Linked DNA regions of Homo sapiens: region 2 is linked to region 1. The links come from fine-mapping of genetic effects on gene expression. Tissue or cell type: blood mononuclear cells. Region 1 holds a variant in brackets; the other region holds the start of a gene. All regions are shown on one strand. Distances are between the middles of the regions.

The links. PIP is the estimated chance that this variant, and not a neighbour inherited with it, causes the effect.
Region 2: ADAM19 starts here. The variant in region 1 is fine-mapped to the expression of ADAM19 in blood mononuclear cells (TOPMed, PIP 0.96).

The regions. Positions count from the first base shown.
Region 1 is chr5:157,499,430-157,502,111 of GRCh38, reverse strand. It overlaps ADAM19 (ADAM metallopeptidase domain 19), which reads left to right. Exons shown (of 23, transcript NM_033274.5): 13 at 2,450-2,539. Among named protein-coding and RNA genes, the nearest start is that of NIPAL4, 41 kb to the right of the region's middle. RefSeq lists enhancers at 1,942-2,001, 2,062-2,111. The variant G/A (reference allele first, on the strand shown) is at 1,112.
Region 2 is chr5:157,574,509-157,577,190 of GRCh38, reverse strand. It overlaps ADAM19 (ADAM metallopeptidase domain 19), which reads left to right and starts at 1,416. Exons shown (of 23, transcript NM_033274.5): 1 at 1,416-1,588. The coding sequence starts at 1,495. LOC124901121 (a long non-coding RNA gene) reads right to left here and starts at 2,212. Exons shown (of 2, transcript XR_007059018.1): 1 at 1,821-2,212; 2 at 581-911. RefSeq lists enhancers at 1-17, 1,875-1,954, 2,191-2,682 and a silencer at 1,265-1,704.

The DNA.
Region 1 (2,682 bases):
TATGGGGGTGAGACTGAGGTTCTGTATAAATGGAAAAAAAAATCTGATTTTATGGCCTTCTCTCTCTCACTCTGTTGCCCAGGCTGGAGTGCAGTGACAAGATCTCCACTCACTGCAACCTCCACCTCCAGGGTTCAAGCGATTCTCCTGCCTCAGCCTCCTGAGTAGCTGGGAATACAGGTGTGTGCCACCACACCTGGTTAATTTTTTTTTTTTTGTACTTTTAGCAGAGACAGAGTTTTGCTACATTGACCAGGCTGTTCTCAAACTCCTGACCTCAGATGATCCACCCACCTCGGCCTCCCAAAGCACTAGGATTGCAGGCGTGAGCCACCGCACCCTGCCTGTGACCTCTGTGATGTGATTTTTCTTTTTTTAATGCCAGTATGTCACTTTCAGAATAAAACAAGAACTAGTCAAGGATGCCACCCCCACCACCATGAGCCCAGAGAGATCAACACAGACCCATCAGAAAGGAGGGAGTGGTATGAACATGGAGGGCCACTGGGGTTGAGGAATGGCCTGAGAGTGGGCATGGCCAGTTGGCTTAGGTTCTGAGCAGTTGCTCATTCAACAGGCACACTGAGTGTGGGCTACTGTGTCTGGTCCTAGGGTTAGGATGAGTGGCAAAAATGACATAGTTCCTGTCCTTGGGGAGCTGATAGTCTAGTGGGAGAAACACATATTGAAATAATTGCAAAAGAATATATGTACAGTCCATGGCAAGTGCTAGGAAGACAAATGACACAGTGCTCTGAACATATATAATGTGAGGGGGAACCTCCTTGCTTGTGTGGGAGGTGACCTGGAGCCCATATCTGAAGGCTGCATTAGGAGTTAGTGAGGCACGCAGGAGGGAAGGCACATTTCAGGTGGAAGGGGAGCCTGTGCCTTCGTGGGAAGAAATATGGTACATTAGGAAGGCAGGAATACAGGTCTTCCTGGAGCCCAACATGGTGGGAGAATAATGGGAGGAAAGTGTTCTATTCCTTCTCTTAGGGGAGACAGGTGGACAGGTGTCTGTGGTCAGGGGATGGGATGTGGCTCTCCAATATGCTAGAGCCCTGGACAGTTAGGGGTATAAGGTTGATAAACATGAGGTAGGCCTCAG[G/A]CAGACCTGACTTGAATTCAGCAGGTGTGTCCCTCGGCCAGCTACTGGACTTGCCTGAGCCACAGCATCCCTGTCTGTGGAATGGGGTCAAGGCTGCCTCATAAGGCTGTGGTGGAGAGATCTGTGGAGCCCCGTACACTTTTCATCAATGGCTGATGGATTGGCCTGTTAATACTGTAAGAGTGTGATGAGGACGCTCAGGGTCACTGGAACGCCTCATAATCTTTTAAAAATCTCAGGCTGGGGGAGAGCAAGGAACCCATGGAGATCTTCTGTTCCAGAAAGGTCCAGGCCAGGAAGGGCTTAGGAAGAGAAGCAGATGGAGAAAAAAATCTAAGGAAACAGACCCAGGAGTTGACATAAACTGTTTGGAGAGGTTGTTCCAGCAGACTCTTGCACCGGCAGCCCCTTTTCATGAGATAAGAAAGCCTAGGAGGGTTGGGGGCAGGAGGGCACCCATGAAAGACAGGGTGTCTGGATGTTCTACTGGGGATTAGAAAAACAAAACATAAAATTTCCATATACTCTGCTAAAAAGTCCATTTTAGAAGACTACATGGTTACAGGGAGAAATACGCATGTTATATTAAGTAAAAAAACACTGTGGATACTATGATTTTGTAAAGTAAGTATAAATATATATGTATGTGTGTAGAAAATGCCTTGAAAAATATTCATACTCAAAATGTAGCTGTGTCCTAGCGGGGCATGGTGGTGTGTGCCTGTGGTCCCAGCTACTTGGGAGGCTGTGGCATGAGAATTGCTTGAACCTAGGAGGAGAAGGTTGCAGACTGTCTCAAAAAAAGATGTAGCTGTGTCCAAGTCATGTTACTAATGATTGTGCATATATATGGTTCTTGTGACAAGTACACATTAGCTTAGTGACGAAGCTGTCACATGATTTTTGAGGTCAAAAGTTTCCAGGCCAGGTGCGGTGGTTCATGCCTATAATCCCAGCACTTTGGGAGGCCGAGGCAGGTGGATCACTTGAGGTCAGAAGTTTGAAACCAGCCTGGCCAACATGACGAAACCCAATCGCTATTAAAAATACAAAAATTAGCCAGGTGTGGTGGGGTGTGCCTGTGGTCTGAGTTACTTCGGAGGCTGAGGCGGGAGAATCGCTTGAAACCAGGAAGCAGAGGTTGCAGTGACCCGAGATATTGCATCACTGCACTCCAGCCTGGGTGACAGATCGAGACTCCCTCTCAAAAAAAAAAAAAAAAAAAAAGAGATAGTTGCTAGAGAGCTGGGGTTCCAGGGGTGTGTGGGCAAGGGTGGGGAAAATGTTGGGGGTGGTGAAGGCCCTCCCCCACTCACACCCACCCCACTGCCTCCCCAGGAATGTAACAACCCCTGCTGCAATGCCTCTAATTGTACCCTGAGGCCGGGGGCGGAGTGTGCTCACGGCTCCTGCTGCCACCAGTGTAAGGTAAGTGGCCCTTTTCTCCACGCCTTGGGCCCTGGCCTGACAGTGGGACCACAGGACTGCTCTGCTGGGGTGGATGGCTGGGGATTTGCCTCCATCCTGGGGCTGTGATGGCAACAGAGTTTCAGAAACACAGAGCGGAAAAG
Region 2 (2,682 bases), 75 kb before region 1:
ATACGAATTTTACAGCAGCTGGAGACTAACGGAGTCCCAAACGACATTAATGGCCAGAACCACTTATTTGATTTCCCTCATGGGTGCCCATGAGTAGGGTTTGATAGACCTACCTACCCATCATCTTCAGGAGTGCCTCGCCCTCTCCAACACTTAGCACTTCTCTAGTCAACCTGGGTTTGACTAAAGAGGCTCAGAAAAAGGAACAGATGGACGAGGTTTGAGGCTGGGATTCTACAACGAGGCTTTGCTAAAACTTGCTGAGGGATCTTAGGCAAGTCATTTCTCTCTCATTATCAGTTTCTCCACCTGGAAAATAAGGTGTGTTGCATCAGGCTCTGGAGTTATACGGATGTGGGTTTGAATCTAGGCACTGACATTAGCTGTGTAATCTTGGGCAAGTGGTTTAGCCTCTCAGGTTTGATTTCCTCATTTCTAAAACAGGGATAGTACTAGTACCTACCCCATGGGATTACTGGGCTAATGAAAAGAGATAATGTATGCAGAGTCCCTGGCTCATAAAAGTTATTTTCTCCGATTAATTAAATAAGTGAATATGTGTAAAGTGCTGAAGACAGCGTTTGACACTTAGCGTTTTATCAGTCTTAGCTATCATGATTTTCTTATTCTAGTACATAGAAAGTCCTCAATAAGTAACAGTAGTTATTATTATTTTTGGTCACATGTCCCTGTGTTTCCCTCCAAAACCCTAACCATCCCCAATTCTGGTTTTCTCCCCGCATGCAGCCCAAGGGTTTTCACGTCCCAGTGCGATTGTCTGGGCTGTTTCCTCCGCCTGATGTTCCATTTCTCCTCCTCCCGATCTCAGATGGCTTCTCCTCTGGGATTCCTCTGGTCTTCATCACTCCCTCCTCCCAGGCAGAAGGAATGGCTCCTGGATTTGTGTCCTGCTTAAAAAAAAAAAAAAAAAAAAAAAAAAAAAAAAAAAAAGAAGTCCATATAGCACTTAGTTCTTTGTGCCTGGCGGTTGGGTTAACTCTTTCTGAGCCTGTCTCCGAGAGTGGCGGCCCCCGGGGGACGGCGCTGGGTGAATCACCTCTGAGTGTCACCCAAGGCGTCTGGCACAGTGCGGGACAGTAAACGGGCCGCTGTGCGGAGAGGGGTCCAGTTTAACTCCTAGAAGCCCGAGTCCCCGACCCTCTACAGGCCGCGTCCACCACAAATCCCTCCTCCTGGGGGGCTCGGATTCTCCCTTCCCCGCGGTCTCCCTCACCTGAGCCAGCCCCGCTCCCCCGAGTCTCGCCAGCTCCTCCCCGGCCCCTCCCTCCAGCCCCCTCCGGGCTGGAGCCTCCCCTCCTCCATCCCCTGGCGGAGGCCCGCGGGGCTGGAGGCGGAGCGTCTCGGCAGAGGGCTGGGAGCCGGGTGGGGAGGCGCGGGGCGAGCCGGGGGGTTCCAGACGCGCCTCCACCGCCGGGCAGTGGGCAGGTATGGCTGAGGGCGTGTGAGCGCCGAGCGCTAAGGGCCGCCGCCACCATGCCAGGGGGCGCAGGCGCCGCCCGGCTCTGCTTGCTGGCGTTTGCCCTGCAGCCCCTCCGGCCGCGGGCGGCGCGGGAGCCTGGATGGACAAGTAAGTGGCCAGGCGCGGGGGGATGGAGGCTGGGTGGCCCGGAGACCTGGGAGTAGCCTTGCGGGTCCGGAGCGCTGGGACCGCGACCCCTGCGCCTCCCGCAACTCCGCGGGGCCTGCGCCCCCGCCGTCCCCAGCCTGGGAGCCCGGGCTTTGTTCCCACGTTCTGCGCCCTGGGAGGTGGCAGAGGTCGGGGAAACCCGGCGCAGCCAGAAAACAGCCGGTCCGCTCACTGGCTAGCCTTCCCTTCTCGCCTTCTCCTTCCTCTGTTTTTCTGCTTTTGGCTTCTCTTTCCGCCGTTCTCGGGGCTTATCCTCCTCCGTTTTCTCACGGTCCCTCGTGTCCGCTCCGCCTCTCTCTCTGTCTTTCTCTCTACCGCCCGCTGCACTCGCCAACGCCGAGCATCCCGAGCGCCCTGCCCGTGTGGCCTGGGAGCGGCTTCCTGGGACCAGGCTCGGTGCCTGCCACACTGGTGGGGTAGGACATAAAATGCCCGCGGCAGACTGTGGTAGCCTTGGCTAGGGGATGGCTCGCTGGGTATCTGCAGCCACACACTTCGGATCCCCGAGCTGGCAGGAGCCCTACTGAAGGCCAAGTCAAACGCACCCATTTCACAGATGGGGAAACCGAGGCCCACAAAAGGGAAAGGACTTGCCCAAGGCCACGCCACGGGTTGAGGTCCGCGGTGGCACTGGAAACCAGGGCTCTCTTTCCACGCCAACCCGACGGCCGCCTTCTTTGGTCCTCAGTTTCCCCTTCTGTGAAGCGAAGGGGTCTGACTCGATGTTTCCAGCTAAGATGCCGGGTGATGTCCGTGTTTCTCAGGACTAGTTTCCCAGACACCAATCCCCTCCCCGGCTCCATCCCTCGGGGGCTATAAGCAGATTTCGCGGAAGGCTTGGTCCCGGGGGGCGGTGCCCGGGTTCTCTCATTATGACCGGAGAAGGCTTAGCCCTGGCTCCACCGCTGCAGACGGGCTGGGCTGACTCCAGACTGCTGCTTGGGGGACCAACAGTCAGCGTTTTCAAATAGAGCGAGCACCGGCGGAGCGAGGGTGGGCTGGCTGGACCCCCGGGCCGCCTCAAACCCAGAGGC